4 separate regions of the Homo sapiens genome follow, and regions 1, 2 and 4 are each linked to region 3. The links come from fine-mapping of genetic effects on gene expression. A gene starts in region 3. Each other region holds a variant in brackets. All regions are shown on one strand. Distances are between the middles of the regions. Region 1 overlaps AP3B1 (adaptor related protein complex 3 subunit beta 1). Region 2 overlaps AP3B1 (adaptor related protein complex 3 subunit beta 1). Region 3 holds the start of AP3B1 (adaptor related protein complex 3 subunit beta 1). Region 4 has its middle 56 kb from the start of TBCA.

Evidence for each region. PIP is the estimated chance that this variant, and not a neighbour inherited with it, causes the effect.
Region 1: its variant is the best candidate, but not a certain one, in a credible set for the expression of AP3B1 in monocytes (Fairfax 2014, PIP 0.80).
Region 2: its variant is the best candidate, but not a certain one, in a credible set for the expression of AP3B1 in whole blood (TOPMed, PIP 0.61).
Region 4: its variant is the best candidate, but not a certain one, in a credible set for the expression of AP3B1 in subcutaneous fat (GTEx, PIP 0.50).

What each region holds. Positions count from the first base shown.
Region 1 is chr5:78,121,786-78,126,053 of GRCh38, forward strand. All of the region lies in intron 17 of AP3B1 (adaptor related protein complex 3 subunit beta 1), which reads right to left. Among named protein-coding and RNA genes, the nearest start is that of AP3B1, 170 kb to the right of the region's middle. The variant C/T (reference allele first, on the strand shown) is at 1,748.
Region 2 is chr5:78,088,967-78,093,234 of GRCh38, forward strand. It overlaps AP3B1 (adaptor related protein complex 3 subunit beta 1), which reads right to left. Exons shown (of 27, transcript NM_003664.5): 22 at 427-533. Among named protein-coding and RNA genes, the nearest start is that of AP3B1, 200 kb to the right of the region's middle. The variant A/G (reference allele first, on the strand shown) is at 2,110.
Region 3 is chr5:78,292,390-78,296,657 of GRCh38, forward strand. AP3B1 (adaptor related protein complex 3 subunit beta 1) reads right to left here and starts at 2,309. Exons shown (of 27, transcript NM_003664.5): 1 at 2,063-2,309. The coding sequence starts at 2,190. RefSeq lists enhancers at 2,572-3,145, 3,520-3,569.
Region 4 is chr5:77,830,262-77,834,529 of GRCh38, forward strand. No RefSeq gene overlaps it. Among named protein-coding and RNA genes, the nearest start is that of TBCA, 56 kb to the left of the region's middle. The variant A/T (reference allele first, on the strand shown) is at 1,838.

The DNA of each region.
Region 1 (4,268 bases), 170 kb before region 3:
TTCCTTCTGAAACTATTCCAATCAATAGAAAAAGAGGGAAGCCTCCCTAACTCATTTTAGGAGGCCAGCATCATCCTGATACCAAAGCCTGGCAGAGACACAAACCAAAAAAGAGAATTTTAGACCAATATCCTTGATGAACATTGATGCAAAAATACTCAATAAAATACTGGCAAACCGAATCCAGCAGCACATCAAAAAGCTTATCCACCATGATCAAGTGGGCTTCATCCCTGGGATGCAAGGCTGGTTCAACATACACAAATCAATAAATGTAATCCAGCATATAAACAGAACCAAAGACAAAAACCACATGATTATCTCAATAGATGCAGAAACGGCCTTTGACAAAATTCAACAACCCTTCATGCTAAAAACTCTCAATAAATTAGGTATTGATGGGATGTATCTCAAAATAATAAGAGCTATCTATGACAAACCCACAGCCAATATCATACAGCATGGGCAAAAACTGGAAGCATTCCCTTTGAAAACTGGCACAAGACAGGGATGCCCTCTCTCACCACTCCTATTCAACATAGGGTTGGAAGTTCTGGCCAGGGCAGTTAGGCAGGAGAAGGAAATAAAGGGCATTCAATTAGGAAAAGATGAAGTCAAATTGTCCCTGTTTGCACATGACATGATTGTTTATCTAGAAAACCCATCGTCTCAGCCCAAAATCTCCTTAAGCTGATAAGCAACTTCAGCAAAGTCTCAGGATACAAAATCAATGTGCAAAAATCACAAGCATTCTTATACACCAATAACGGACAAACAGAGAGCCAAATCATGAGTGAACTCCCATTCACAATTGCTTCAAAGAGAATAAAATACCTAGGAATCCAACTTACAAGGGATGGGAAGGACCTCTTCAAGGAGAACTACAAACCACTGCTCAATGAAATAAAAGAGGATACAAACAAATGGAGGAACATTCCATGCTCATGGGTAGGAAGAATCAATACCGTGAAAATGGCCATACTGCCCAAGGTAATTTATAGATTCAATGCCATCCCCATCAAGCTACCAATGACTTTCTTCACAGAATTGGAAAAAACTACTTTAAAGTTCATATGGAACCAAGAAAGAGTCCGCATCGCCAAGTCAATCCTAAGCCAAAAGAACAAAGCTGGAGGCATCATGCCATCTGACTTCAAACTATACTACAAGTCTACAGTAACCAAAACAGCATGGTACTGGTACCAAAACAGAGATATAGATCAATGGAACAGAACAGAGCCCTCAGAAATAATGCCGCATATCTACAACCATCTGATCTTTGACAAACCTGAGAAAAACAAGCAACGGGGAAAGGATTCCCTATTTAATAAATGGTGCTGGGAAAACTGGCTAGCCAGATGTAGAAAGCTGAAACTGGATCCCTTCCTTACACCTTATACAAAAATTAATTCAAGATGGATTAAAGACTTAAATGTTAGATCTAAAACCATAAAAACCCTAGAAGAAAACCTAGGCAATACCATTCAGGACAGAGGCATGGGCAAGGACTTCATGTCTAAAACACCAAAAGCAATGGTAACAAAAGCCAAAATTGACAAATGGGACGTAATTAAACTAAAGAGCTTCTGCACAGCAAAAGAAACTACCATCAGAGTGAACAGGCAATCTACAGAATGGGAGAAAATTTTTGCAACCTACTCATCTGACAAAGGGCTAATATCCAGAATCTACAATGAACTCAAACAAATTTACAAGAAAAAAACAAACAACCCCATCAAAAAGTGGG[C/T]GAAGGATGTGAACAGACACTTCTCAAAAGAAGACATTTATGCAGCCAAAAAACACATGAAAAAATGCTCGTCATCACTGACCATCAGAGAAATGCAAATCAAAACCACAATGAGATACCATCTCACACCAGTTAGAATGGCAATCATTAAAAAGTCAGGAAACAACAGGTGCTGGAGAGGATGTGGAGAAATAGGAACACTTTTACACTGTTGGTGGGACTGTAAACTAGTTCAACCATTGTGGAAGTCAGTGTGGCGATTCCTCAGGGATCTAGAACTAGAAATACCATTTGACCCAGCCATCCCATTACTGGGTATATACCCAAAGGATTATAAATCATGCTGCTATAAAGACACAGGCACATGTATGTTTATTGCGGCACTATTCACAATAGCAAAGACTTGGAACCAACACAAATGTCCAACAACGACAGACTGGATTAAGAAAATGTGGTACATATACACCATAGAATACTATGCAGCCATAAAAAATGATGAGTTCATGTCCTTTGTAGGGACATGGATGAAACTGGAAACCATCATTCTCAGCAAACTATCACAAGGACAAAAAACCAAACACCACATGTTCTCACTCATAGGTGGGAAATGAACAATGAGAACACATGGACACAGGAAGGGGAACATCACACTCCAGGGACTGTTGTGGGGTGGGGCGAGTGGGGAGGGATAGCATTTGGAGATATACCTAATGCTAAATGACGAGTTAATGGGTGCAGCACACCAACATGGCACATGTATACATATGTAACAAACCTGCACATTGTGCACATGTACCCTAAAAGTATAATAATAAAATAAAAATTAAACACACACACACACACAAAATCTCCATATGATTATAATGCGCAGCTACATTTAAAAACCACTAGTCTAAGGCTGGGTGATGTAGCTCATACCTGTACTCTCAGCACTTTGGGAGCTGAGGCAGGAGGATGGCTTGAGCCCAGGAGTTTGAGGCTGCAGTGAGCTATGATCGCACCACTGCACTCCAGCCTGGGTGACAGAGCAAAATCATGTCTCAAAAAAATAAATAAAAGCAAATAAAAATAAAACCACTGATCTAGAGGGTTTAAGGTATGTTGCTTAAAAAGAGAAGCTTGAATATATTTGAATAAGATGCTTATATAAGATCAGCAGTATGGCTTTCTTTTATATTTATTTAAAATGCTTCTGTCTACAAAGATAGTATTCTATAAACAAAGCTCTCTTATATTTGGTAAACTCTGAAGTCCATATTTTTCTTAAATCCAAACATATTTCTCTGAGGTCTGATAAAACGTTTGTTGGATTAATTTAATAACACTAAATCAACAATTTCGGAAAACCAGACTTCTATGCTCAAACGTGCATTTTTTCTTGACATGGCCATGAATTCTATGGAGTTTCAGGTTTTAAAAGGCCAAAGACGAACAATAAAAGTATCTTAATTTGTATTGTGGTCCTTTATGACTAAAAGACCACATTATCATTGTAAGGAAAAGGAATAATAGGGAAAAGAAAAGAAAAGAAAAGAAGAGAACATAGACGCTAATTTGAAAGTTTCTGTAAAGGATAAAATATTGACAGATGTGTTTATGAAGCAAAATACCCTTCATATGCAGAAGGCGGTCTTTCTGTCAGTAGAGAAGAAAGGACTTTCTAGAACTAAGCAAATAAATTATTAACTAAGGATCTTCAAAACTTACTGGGATCATAATATAAATATATATTATATCCTATATCCTAGAAATGGTGGTGTGTAATTCAAAGTGACTTCTACTGTCAATCTGACTAGGTTCCCAGTCATTTTGATTAAAATATCAGATTATCTAAACCTAGGTCATTTTTCTTACTAAGTTATATTTCACAGTTACAGGACTTGACCATGTAAGATCACTTTACAGGAAAACTAGAATAACATAGTATATTATATGCATGAAATACAGTGACATGACTTGGAAGGGAGATGAAGTAGAGTGAGAGACAAGAAAGATAATACGGACATTATTTTTTGTATTGTAGCTGCATTTAAAAAGAAAACTATCTACGTTATTTTTATATTTAATTGTGTCCCTCATAGTATAATTTTAAGCCAATTGTCTCAGAGTCCAATAGACTGAAGCTGTTTTCTGCATGGCATCAACAGACAGTGACAGTTTTATCAAACCATGTTCAATCAGTTATAATGATTCTCTCTAAGTTACCAATTATTAATTTCATAAATATAATCAGCAAAATGAAAAAGAAATTAATTTGTCTCTGTTGAATTGGACAGGTGAAACGAACATAATATGTTATATTTAAGTACTGTCCCTATAAGGTAGTTAATGCTTAGAAGAGCACATGAAAATGGAAGAAGCCAGCCAACAAACCAATCTATCAGCCAATAAAGAATACTGCTGAGACCAAATTAAATTGCATAGCATTGCTATCAACTCTGAGAAGATAATGCTTTTTGGTGGGTGGGGGCAGCAAGGAGGGAGAGATAAGGCGGAAGCAGGGGAAGGTTAAAAGGATGGT
Region 2 (4,268 bases), 200 kb before region 3:
AAAAAATCTTGAACTTTTAAATAAAAACAGTCATGAATTTTTAATAGTCTATGAAAAAATAGTGTGGTAGGAATAAAACGATTACGGAAATGAAAGTCTGTTAATGTAGACAACTTTTTGTGGCACAGTTCAGGTATATGTACTGCGTCAATGTGGTGAAGAACCTTTGTATGTTACAGATATATAACAATACCAGAGAAAAACATACAGATGATAATTAAGTGTGGACAACAAGGGAAAAAAATTGAGAAGATAATGGTTTGAGTAAATTATTTAAAAAATTAAAAGGTCTTAGCTAAATTGGGCTTGTTCTTAGAGAAGAATCTGTTCAAAACTAAGAATCCACTTCAAGTATTTACATTTTAATAAAAAAGATACAATGGCAACATAAGAAAACCGAGCTGGTGGATTTTAAAAATAACTTACACTGATGACTGAAGAGGAAGTTGACAAGTGTAAACCTTCAAGATCAGCCATCAAACTTGGAGAAAGAGCTGGTGTGGGAAGTGCAACTGGAGTGGATACTGGGTTAACTGTAAGAAAAGGCCCAAATTAGTAAATGTGCATGAACGTTTAATTCAAATTATTAAAAGCAACATTTTTATTTTGTTAGTAAATCTAATTAAATTACTTTGATTAATAAATGTATGACAATTCTATTTAACATCTTGATTTAGTCAACTTATTATCAAGTCATGGCAGTTATTAGTCTTAGCTTTCAAAACATAATGGCAAATCCTATAACAAAATAAGGATATAAATATCTTGAGTAATAGTTTGTGAAAATTTTTATCACATAACATTATCACTAACATTTATCACCCAGTAATCTCCCTAAAAAAGTAAAGAAACATTTTTTTTCCAGACTATCATAAGAATAACAACCGCTTCCAAGAGAATGCTGCAGTGGAATTAGAAGTCTTGAAAGATGTTCAAATCCTATATCTATTTTATTCTCCACTCTAATCAGGCTACCTAATTCCCTTGTAATTATACTTTTTCAGCAAAAGCTATGTGCTAGATAGAAATGTTTGACTGATTCTAAAACTGCTATATACTTGAGAACTGATACCTGTAAGTTTGGAAATCTTCTAAAAATGCAAGTCTGGTCATGTTACTCCCCTGCTTAAGACTCTTCAAAGGCTCATAACTGCCTACAAGATAAAAGCCCAACTCCTCAATTAAGTTCACAAAGTCCTCTATGGTCTGCCCCAGCCCAAACAGCCCTTCCTATGCTAATGGAAATGTTCTACATTTGATAAAGTGGACACTAGCCACATATGCCTAACATACTCTTGATATGTGGCTAGTATGACTAAATAAATGCATTTTAAACTTTGCATAATTTAAGTAATTACATGTGGCTTGTGGCCGCCATACTGGACTATTCAGGTCCAGCTTATCTCCAATTTCAGCATTGTTATGCACTAGCTCTATGGGATAATAGTTCCCAAGATCTTGTTCTACGTCTTGGAGCCTTTTATATTCTACTCTGTTTGCCTACTTCTCTGCCTTGCTCATCTTGCAACTTCGATCTGGCAAGCTACCCTTTAAAAGGAAAACACTCTCTGGCTCACCTGCAAACAGCTTATATGTGCCTTCTTTGTTCCACAGATATACTTGAACAAACTTCTATAACTGTACTTCTCATGTAATACAAATTTGTGTCTTTACATGTTTGCATTTCTGCTAGTCTGTGTGAACAGACAATAACATTAATTTTTGGTGTTTCTAAACCATTTGAATAAAATACATTACAATGTGGTCAAGTTTTAGCTTCCAACAAATTCTCATTCCAAGATAATACCCTAAAGGGAATAACATTTAGTTAATTTGACATTTCTTTTTTTATTTTTATTTTTGGAGATAGGGTCTTGCTCTGTTGCCCAGGCTGGAGTAAAGCGGTGCAATCCCTTCCTGGGCCCAAGCAATCTCAGCCTCCTGAGTAAGTGCATGCCACCATACCCAGCCTTTTTTTTTTATTTTTTATTTTATTTTTTTTTAGAGATGGGATCTCCCCATGTTGTCCAGGCTGGTCGCTAACTCCTAGGCTCAGGCAATCTTCCTACCTTGGCCTCCCAAACTGCTGGGATTACAGGCGTGTGCCAC[A/G]ACACCCAGCTGTGACATTACTTTTCAAAGCATCTTTTTCTCATTTCAGTCTCACAATATCCAGTGAACAAGGCAGAACAAATATTAATCCGTAAAGTTAACAACAAATATTTATTCTGAAAGGTAGCAAGTGAGAGACAAAAAAGTTCAAGATCCTCAAGTAACAAAACCTAATTAAGAAAAAGAGATACATGTATTTGACAAAAAAAAAAAAAAAAAAGTAACAATACAGTCCATAAATGATACGGCCAAAGAAGAAAAATTTCAAAGGAAACACTAAACAAAATCTCAACATATATAATAGAGAAAGCAGCCTGGAGGTTGGATGGGGAGGGAGTGGAGCTCTTGGTCTTCCCTACGCTCACTTAGTACGGCTGAAGCACAGCTTCAAACCCCCAGGCTTCCTTAGACCCACACTGAAAACCCCGGTACAGTTTAGCAAGTGTCACAGAGTCAGGGGCAAAACAAGGATCACTGGAGAAGGAGTGGAAGAGGAGGCTTCATGAACAGGAGGGAATGAAGTCCAATTTTTAAGTAAGAGTGAGATTTGAATAAGAGGAAAGAAAGAAGCCAGTTAATTGTTGGATAACAGAATGCTATAAACAAAGGCTGAGAGGTAGGAAATTGAAAAACTAAGGGGACTGGATTTATCCTATAGACCAAGGGGAACAGTCAAAAATCGATCAAACAGAGGAATGACAATGAATATGGTCCTGCAGGATGGTTAATCAGATGGCAGTACAATGCACAGACTGAAGGCAGGGTTGGGAGTAGGGAAGAATTTACAATAGTTTAGGAATGAAGTGAAAAAGACTAAAGTAAGCCAATGGCAATGAGAAGGCTTAAAAAGAGCATTTAATATTGAAGACACTGGAAACTGAGCCACAGGGAGATTAATATTGACAAGGTCATAAAAAGTGAATGGTAGAACCACTATAGAATTAGAAACTGCTTCTTCTAACTTGGATCATAATATGTTGCCTTCCCATGCAACACGTAACTTTTCAGGTAAGTTCTAAATGCATGTTTATTCATTCCTTTGTACATCTATCTACCCACCCGTCCACCATCTGTCCTTTCAAAATATTAGAATGCCCATGTAACGAATAAAAAACTGAATAAGAAACAGCCTCTGATTTCAACTGTGGCTTGGCTAAATACCATCAAGAGACAAGAGAAGAAACTTCACACCACAAGCAAGTTCTGCTGTTTTTTAAAAAAGGATGGGTTTTAATATAATTTCAGAAGATGTGTGCTCTGGTATTAAAGAGATGATTATGCATCTGTTTGCAGGTATGGCAAGATGAAAGTTGGCATTGAAAGCTTACCCTAAAGTGAATTCTGAGGCTAGGTGACTGTGCTGAAGTATTTAATTAGTAATGTGTAAAAACAAAGTGACTCTATGGGGTTTTTAAAAAAAATGTCATAGTATACAAGTTAAAATGAAATATCATGCCCACCTGGCAAATTAGAAAAGGTAATTTTAAAATACAAAATCTAGCATTGGTGAAGGTACAAGGAATATAGCACCCTCATATTAATACTGTGTAAGCTGGTACAAGCTTTCTGAAAGGCAATTTTATTTACTTATTTTTGAGGAGTTTCTCTGTCACTCAGGCTGGAGTGGAGTGGCATAATCACAGCTCAGTGCAGCCTTGAATTTCTGGACTCAAGCAATCCTCCCGCCTCAGCCTCCTGAGTAGCTAGTATTACAGGTGTATGCCACCATGCCCCGCTAATTTTTCTATCTTTTTGTAGAGACAGGAGTCTCACTTTGTTGTCCAGGCTGGTCTCGAACTCCCAACTTCAAGCAGTCCTCCTGTCTCAGCCTCCCAAGTAGCTGGGATTACAGGCATGAGCCACCATGCCAAGCCTAAAAGGCAATTTTGGACAAACAAATTCTTCAAAGTCTTTGTTCCAGCAATACTACTTCTGGAAATTTATCTTAAGGAAACAGTTACAGAGATATTGAAAAATATATTTACAATGATGAATGTTACTTCACTAATTATGATAGCAAAAAATGGAAAACAGCTAAATTCCCAACAACAGTAAATCTGTTAAACAGAATTTGTTCTAACAGGATAAAGGACAACCATACAGTTATAAAGAACGTAGGTTTTGTTTTGTTTTTGGAAATAGGGTCTTGCTCTGTCACT
Region 3 (4,268 bases):
AAGTTTTAAACTTTTTGTGAGTTGTATGCACTCACTAATAAAAATACCATACATTTCATCAAGTAGTAAGTAGCACATCTAAACTTTTGAGAGAATGGGCTCTAATATTAGAGCCCCTGAGTTCAAATTCAGGCAGTGCAATGTTCTACCTTTGTGGCCTTTTCCAAGTTAACAACCTTGCTCCAATTTCCTCACGTGTAAAGTGGGAGCAGAGAAGTACCTGGTAATAACCTGCAGGGTTGTTTAGGAAAACTGAATGAGATAATAAATGTAAAGTGGTGTGCACAAATACTCAATAAATATCTTTCGGGGAACACAATTCAACCATGGTTATTTGCATATATTACATATCACCTCTAATCAATTAGCTACTTTTATTTTAAATCCAACCTGTTAGGTCACCTCAAGAGCACTGGTCACAGAGTCAAAGCCGTAAGTTTTTTTTGTTTTTTTTTTCCAAATCAGGTCCAAATTTGACAAAAATCTTTTTCTTTTTTTTCTTTTTTTGAGACGGAGTCTCACTCTGTCGCCCACGTTTGAGTGCTGTGGCGCGATCTCGGCTCACTGCAGCTTCCGCCTCCCGGGTTCAAGCGATTCTCCTGCCTCAGCCTCCCGAGTAGCTGGGATTACAGGCACGAGCCACCACGCCCGGCTAATTTTTGTATTTTTAGTAGAGACGGGGTTTCACCATGTTGGCCAGGCTGGTCTCGAACTCCTGGCCTCAAGCGATCCGCCCACCTCACCCTCCCAAAGTGCTGGGATTACAGGCGTGAGCCGCAGTGCCTGGCCCCAAATCTGACAAAAATCTAAGAGAAAACATCGTAGATGTTCACAAACCATAAAAGTAAATTAATTTGCGAAACAGATTGATGCCGATATACAGGTTAATTCAGTCTAAACATTTTGCTAATAGTAGAGGCAACAAGCTCCGTACTTGTTCTAGAACAATGGATCATCAAATGCATATAATGAAAAATGAAATCAGTTACCTTACTTTTAAACTTTTCTAACCTTGGGAAAAAGGAAAAGATTGTATCTTACATGCTATATATATGATTTTGATCCTCAATACAGCCAAAATGTAATCCCAATTTGAAGTAGTAGCACTTTCTAGACTACCCAATATTGTTAGTAACGTTTAATTTAAATTTTAATTATACCCTCTAACAGATCTGCAAAGCTACTAGCACAGCTATTCTACCTTAATTTAGCATGAATTTAGTGACAGACTATTATGTGACCCTATTGCTTAGTAATGAAAGATTTAAAATAAGAGAAATGTAAAAATGATAATTCTGGTAAATGTAACCACTACCACCAACCCACCCCCCAAAACAAACAACTTGGGATTTCTTTCCATTTCTCGGTGATACTTTTTACAAAACTAAGTGTACCTTGTTTAACATTCGTTTTTAAAATTCACATTATTAATCTGTAAAAGTTTTGGATTTGTTCACAGTAACACTCTTTTAAAATATTTTCTATTCATATGCTTATTTTGGATTGGTGTTTTTGTCTGTAGTGCAAAGGACATAATCCAAGAACATTAATACTGGTGTAAACCAGTTTGTCCATTCAAACAGCCTAAATCCACCTCTCTGCTCCTACACTCCGGGGTCACAAAATAACTTCCCACAAGCAACACTCGCACTCTCACCTTCACCAAAACACTCCTTTCACCCTAATCAGGGAATGTATTAAAGTCTGATCCGGCGAACGGTAAATAAACTAGAAGACGATGCTCAAAATTCAGACTCCTGAGCCCAGCCCAAGTCCAATTCAATCAGTGTCTTCAGGGGTGGGATCTAAGCTCACCAAGTGGTTTCCTTTTCACTAAAGTTTGAAAACTACTAGAGACCCCTACACACATTCGCCCCAAACTCCCACAACTCCCACCACCGCCAACCAACCCCACCTACCCACCCGCGGGACACGTTACCGCCCTGCCCTGCTCAGACCTCAGGGCGACCCCGCTCCTCTCCAGGAAGCCCACCCTGGCGCCCACTCCTCCGAGTCCGCAGCTCCTCCCTCCCATCCCCGCAACCCAAACCTTTCTCCTCACTTCTTCAAATCGCTGCTAAAGAGGCCGAAGGCCCCCGAGGGGGAAATGGTTGAGGTCGCCTCCTGACCCAGCTCCGTCGCCTCCCCTCCTCCGGACTGCTCATTGTAAGGAAAACTATTGCTGGACATTGCCGCGGTGCTGGCGGGTGCGGGGTTGGTCCTGCCGGGGGTTCTCTCCAAAAGGTTCCAGTCCAGAGGGCACGGAACAAAACTAGTTCTCGTACGGAGGAGCGCGCGCAGGCGCTTCCGGACTCGTCACGGCTCCCTGAGCCGACCTGGCAGTCCACCCCCTGCGCATGCGCAGTGTGCAGGCCTGCTAGATTACCACCCGGGCCATCCAGGCCTGCGCGGACTTTCCTGCTCCGGGCTTTAGAGGTAGCTGAGCGGCTGCGAGCCGGACTGCGGAAGGGGAGGCAGCGGGTGGCTAACTGCCCGGCTCCCGGCCCGTTTGAGGTGTGTCTTTGGAGAAGGATACCCATTGCATCCGTTTTGATCCGTTAAGGAGTTTCCAGAGCCCGGACAGCTCTTTGCTATACTTCAGTAAAGCAATAGTTTTCAGATTTCTCCGGAAATGCCATTTAGCACGCCAGATCACCTTTCCTAAACCCATCACGATCGCTTTTCCTTTTCTTGCTTGTTTCGGCTACTCTCTTCCATCCGGCTTTGCCTTACTTTCATATCGGTCCCAAACAACTTTTCTCCTAGACTTTAAGGAGGCCTCTCCCAACGATGGTTTGGAGGATCCGCACAGAAGCGACCATTCCATCTTTTCAATGAAAGTCTTGGGGGCAGACCGGGCGCGGTGGCTCACGCCAGTAATTCCAGCACTTTGGGAGGCCGAGGCGGGTGGATCACTTGAGGCCAGGAGTTCGAGACCAGCCTAGGCAACATAGCGAGACCCTTTCTCTGCAAAAAATATAAAAATTAGCCGGCGTGGTGGCGCGTGTCTGTGGTCCCAGCTACTGAGGCTGAGGTGGGAGGATCACTCGAACCCAGAAGGAGGGGGTAGCGATGAGTTGAGATCTCTCCACTGCATTCCAGCCTGGGCGACAGAGCGAGACCCTGTCTCAAAAAAATGAAAAAGAAAAGAAAACATCTTGGGGCCACCAGTTCCCGTTTGGAGCTGAAGTGGTGCGTCCTATTGGCGTCTAGCTACCAAAAATAAAATGGACCACCTCGCGCGCCAGTCGTGTTACTCACTAATATGCACTAGGGAGCCTAGGCGGGATGCTTGCCTGGCCCCAGAGTAGCTCTCTCCGGGTGCTGGCACCCGAGAAAACCTCTTTCCCGGGGTGCCTTCCCCCAGCCCGCCTTCTCAGGTGGGTTTCAGCGCCTTCCCTCTCTTCTCCCCAGTGCCTCCCGTCCAAGGAAGGCATTAACACCCAAAGCCCTGGCGGCCAGGTACTGAAACTGTCAAGGGATTCTACCAGGTAGAACGCGAACCTGGAGGCCGGCCGCCCCAGGGAAGGCGGTGGGGCGTTTTCAAGGATGAGAGTATGATCTCCAAATTTCAAAAGGTCACACTGTCACTGTGGAAGCACGCAAGAGCGTGGCTCTGGGTGGGAGAGGAAGGGACGTCCTCCAAACTTGATCGTCTGGTCAAATATTGGCAGGTTTTTAATTCAGCTGTTAGAATACTCCTCCGGAGAGCCAATGATGAGCACCTAAAATGTGTTATTTGTCAGTATTAATTAATAGAATTTCACCTACAACTGACTATTGATGATGAGGATGAGGATGATCATAGATAACTATATATTATTATATAATCCTTAATATATACCAGGATATAAGTAGTTTTATATATATTAAAACTTCTAAGTAGTTTTATATATATAAATAGTTAAAGTAGTTAACTTTTAATATAAAAAAATTTATTTTAAGTTAAAATAAATACTTTTAAGTTAAAATAGTTAACTTTTAATATATATTAAAAGTTCTAAGTAGTTTTATATATATTAATAGTAAAAAGAGCTAGGCTTTGATTACTTTATTTGTAAAATGAGAACATTGATATACACATAGCCTGGAAAATCTCGGACACATACCTGATTACAGAATTTCTTGGTTTTAGAGCATGTACACTTTTACCAGATATCCTAAATTTTTTTCCAGCATACTTTTAGCAGTGGATAATCTTCTTTCTTCACATTCTCACAAACGTTTAGCTTTCTAAAAATGTTTAATTGTCATCAATATGATACAAA
Region 4 (4,268 bases), 460 kb before region 3:
ACTCCTTCCCAGTTAACCTATTCACACTTTAATTGCAATTTTCTGAAGAAAATTTCTTAAGTCAGTTGTTCTTAACTGCAATATTCGGCAAGTAATTTTTTACTATTGATAGTTCTATTACTGATGTTTTTAAATGATTTGCTTTTCAAAAAAATAAACGAGAACACGCTCAAGGTTATCCTTTCATTCTCAGTTACCTTTGGATATGCTTTTGAGTGAAGGTGCAGTTACCAGTACACACTGGGAATTGGATATAATCCTCAGTCCAGAGCGAGTGACTATTGCTAATGGACTTTGCTAATTGGTTCATTTTACTTCACCAAGCATCTGTTGAATGCCTACTATGTACAAAGCATTAATCTGAAATTAGTTGCTTTTTCAAACTAAAACTTCTATGTACCTTCAATTTCTGGGTCATCCAATTAATTTCAGCATGTTAAAGGACTTTCTGTTTTATGATACATAATTATATAACGTAGGCCTCTTGTGAATCTTAATTCTTTCATTAACTTACCTCATTTAACTTATTAGGTACCCATTTATAGCTTTGTAAAATGCACTGTACTTAAAAGTAATAACTGCAGCACTTTGAAATCTTTTAGAATTCATTCTTTTCATTAAAATCAAACTAATTGCCTCTTCCTCTTGTCTATTATTTTGAAATATTGAGGTTGTGCTACTTAGGTTCTTTTGTCTTATTTCTTTTTATGTTGTATTACCAGTTCCCAAAGGGCATCCAGTGGTGTAACTTGGAACACACGCTCAATTCACAGTCGCAGACACTGGTTGATGGTGGTAGCAATTAACCTGCTTTACATTCCCTCCTGTCCCTCCAATTATGAGAATAATTAAGTGGTGTATGTGTGACAAAGAGAGACAGATAGAAGGATGGGATGGAGATGTGGTACTCTGACAGAAGCAAGACGTAGGGTAATTTTTGGAGTCAGCAAAATTGCCTATACTCCCCACTAGGTTCACTCTTTTCCCCCAAGTGATACCCTCTGGTGCCTCACTGCAGTCACCTGTAGCTCCCTTCCTTTATCCTCCTATTAAATTGCTCTCTAATCCTACATTTATACAAAATTATATGAATTAACACTTTTTAAGTTAATTTACATATTTATGTTGAATAGGTAATTATTTTTTATCTCTTGCTGCTTAGTAAACCACTCCAAAACTTACTGATTTAAAACAACAATGTATTTTTTTTTACAGTTCTGCAATCTGAGACAGGCTCACCGGGATGATTCTTCTGCTCCATGTGTTGGCTGCTGGGGCTGAAATGTCTGAGATGGCTTCTTTACTTGCCTATTGGGTGCCTCAACAGGGATGGCTAGAACAGCTTGGGGCTGGCTGGGCATCTCTCCCTCCATGCGGCTTTTCTACGTGGCTAGATTGGCTTCTTCATAGCATAGTGCTCTTAGGGCAATTGAACTTCTTACCTGAAGGTTGAGGTTAGCTGGCTTCTAATGGAAGCGGCGGCAGAAGCAGAAGCTGCCATTTCTCCCAAAGGCTAGGGGTGGACCTACCTCATGGACACTTCCCCACCAATGTGTGTCACAAAATCAGCCCAGATTCAAAAGCAGGAGAAAGAGACTCCATCTGTTGATATGAAGATTGGCATACATTTATGGGGGGAAAAGGAACTGGGAACAGCTACCTTGCATATGGAAAAAAATTCAAACAGTGCAAAAGGGTACACAGTATAAAATAAGTCTCTTTGGCAACTCTGTCCCCAAGACACTCCAGTATAACAACTGTTACGCTTTCTGCGTATTTTCCCAGAGATATTCAATATATAAACAAACATATGCTTTATATATATGCTTTTAAATAT[A/T]TTTCTTACATTGATAGTGTGTATAATATAGTTTTATTCCAAGGTTGCCTGCTCTATAGTGTCCATGCTTTGCTTTTCTCATTTAATCATACAGAGGGAGGTAGTTCTATTCTTTGTAATGGCTACATATTTTCCTTTGGTAGATATTTAGCCATTTCTGATCTCTTGTTAATATAATACCAATACTGCTTCGATGAATATCACTATGTGTATTTTAAAAATGTAACTTTGCCAGTAAGAAAAATTCCTGTAAGAAGAATTGCTGAGTCAAATAATATATGCATGTACGATGTTATTAGGTCAATAAAGGTACCATGGGGAGGGACATCTAAATCAGTCATTCTTCACTGGGGAGGGAGAAAGCTTTGCCTACCACGCATGCTCCCTCCTCGCCTCTAGTCCCACTGCCAGCAGGTGTGATAAAACTGCTTCACTAATTGAGAACCACTCCTCTAGACCAACTACCTCATTCAGCAGAGAAGGCTCCTGCAGGTCTGAGAGCCTGACTCACCCTTCAGTGCCTCATCACACTGTGAATTGGTCTTCTCTCGACCAATAAGCACATAAGCAGTCACTGCAGGATCACCTTGATGTAGACAAAGTTTGTCCAAAGGGTGCCTTGTGATCACTAAACCTGAAAGAGCCTCCATGATCCAAAAAACAGAAAAAGATTCTGTCATCAAGCACGCCTGGGAACACTGCACCCTATATCAGTAAGTCACAATCAACAACGGCAAATGAGGACTCTGAGGAGCCCTGCCCCTAAGAAAACTGCTTAACATTGTTTAAATAAAAGAATGGATTTAAACGTCTGCTTCCTAACCTTATTGGACCATATCACCCCTTTTTGTAACACTTGTTTTGCTAACTACCTGTGGAAATAAGCTTTCTGGGAAACATTCTTTGTGGTGTAGAAGAAAAGTTACTGAACTGGGAAACTGGCTCCACTCCCAACCAGCTATGCAGTCACAAACAGTCAAAAATCACTCTGAGCCCCGGGCAGTGTAATTGTCTGGTGGTGGTGGTGGTTTGGTCCTTTTAACCTAGAGGAGCTTCCCCTTCCATTTCCCTTACTGAAGACAACACAGGATGTTATGCCTGACAGGGAACATTGAAGTTCGATCTGCGTATTTGTTCCTTTGAATTCCTTCTAGTCTGTTCTTTAGCTATGTGTATGCTAGTGCAAGTGGATATGACAAGTCCAGTAGGGCTTTTAGCTCAAGTCTTCTTGTTCCTGCTGCTCACCACCCTGACCACTCCCTCCCAAAGCTTCCCCACCTTCAGAAAAGAAAAAAAACCTGGAGTTCAGCAGAAATCAGGCTGACCTCAGGCATGCACACAGCAGACGATGAATATATCTAACTCTCTGTCTTTGCCACTTCTTTTCTGGACAGGCCATAAACAAATTTTGTGCTCAGGGAAAAATGATCTGGTATTCTTATATCAAATTCATATAACCTTTGCAAATGAGAACAGATCTTCAAACCAGGTGTAGTGTGATTTGTTTTGACTCTTTACTGCCTCCAACTGAGATGTTTTACATATACTAATCTAAAGACAATGAATCCTGAGCTGATTTCATGAGTGTAAGTTATTCCAGCCCTGAAATGAAGGGGCCTGCTGTGTGTCAGAACACACAGATGCATAGGCAACCAAGAGCTATTGAGCTAAATATCTTTTTTTATTAATCAGGGCTTCAGAGGTAAAATCTCCTTCTCAGGGACATCAAGGTGATTTGTGACACTCTCCGTACACCTTTATATTCACAAACCAATGAGTACATCACACCAATCTCTCGTTTTCTCATCAGTGGCAGACATAAAACACAGGTAATCTTCATGCTACTCAGATGTTTCAATTAACTGTGAAAACCCTTTGGCTTATATTATATAACATTTGTGAGTACTTCATTTCCTTTCAGCTTAAGCATCAACTAGAACACACACTTAAAATCTTGTTACATTTCTTTTAGAAATTGATGCAATTAAATGGTAGAGCTGCCTATACTAAAGACAAAAAGAATGAACTCTGAGGACACCTGAGATCTTTCTTTTTGTGGTCCTCTTAGGTGTCCGATTCATGGTTTAGAAAGGCGGGGTCTGTTTTTATATTCACCAAGAACACAGGGGCCTGAAAGTGGGAAATCCAAACACATGTGTTTACCAAGAATTCACCTCTTTGCACACATTGTATGCAGCAAGTACCTATGTTAGTGAATTTTTCTAAGTCAACCCTGGAGATATTTACAATCTTTTAAGTAAGAATCCTGGCCAGGCGTGGTGGCTCACGCCTGTAATCCCAACACTTTGGGAGGCCGAGGCAGGTGGATCACAAGGTCAGGGGCTCGAGACTCAGCCTGACCAATATGGTGAAACCCCGTTTCGACTAAAAATACAAAAATTAGCTGAGCTTGGTGGCAGGTGCCTGTAAT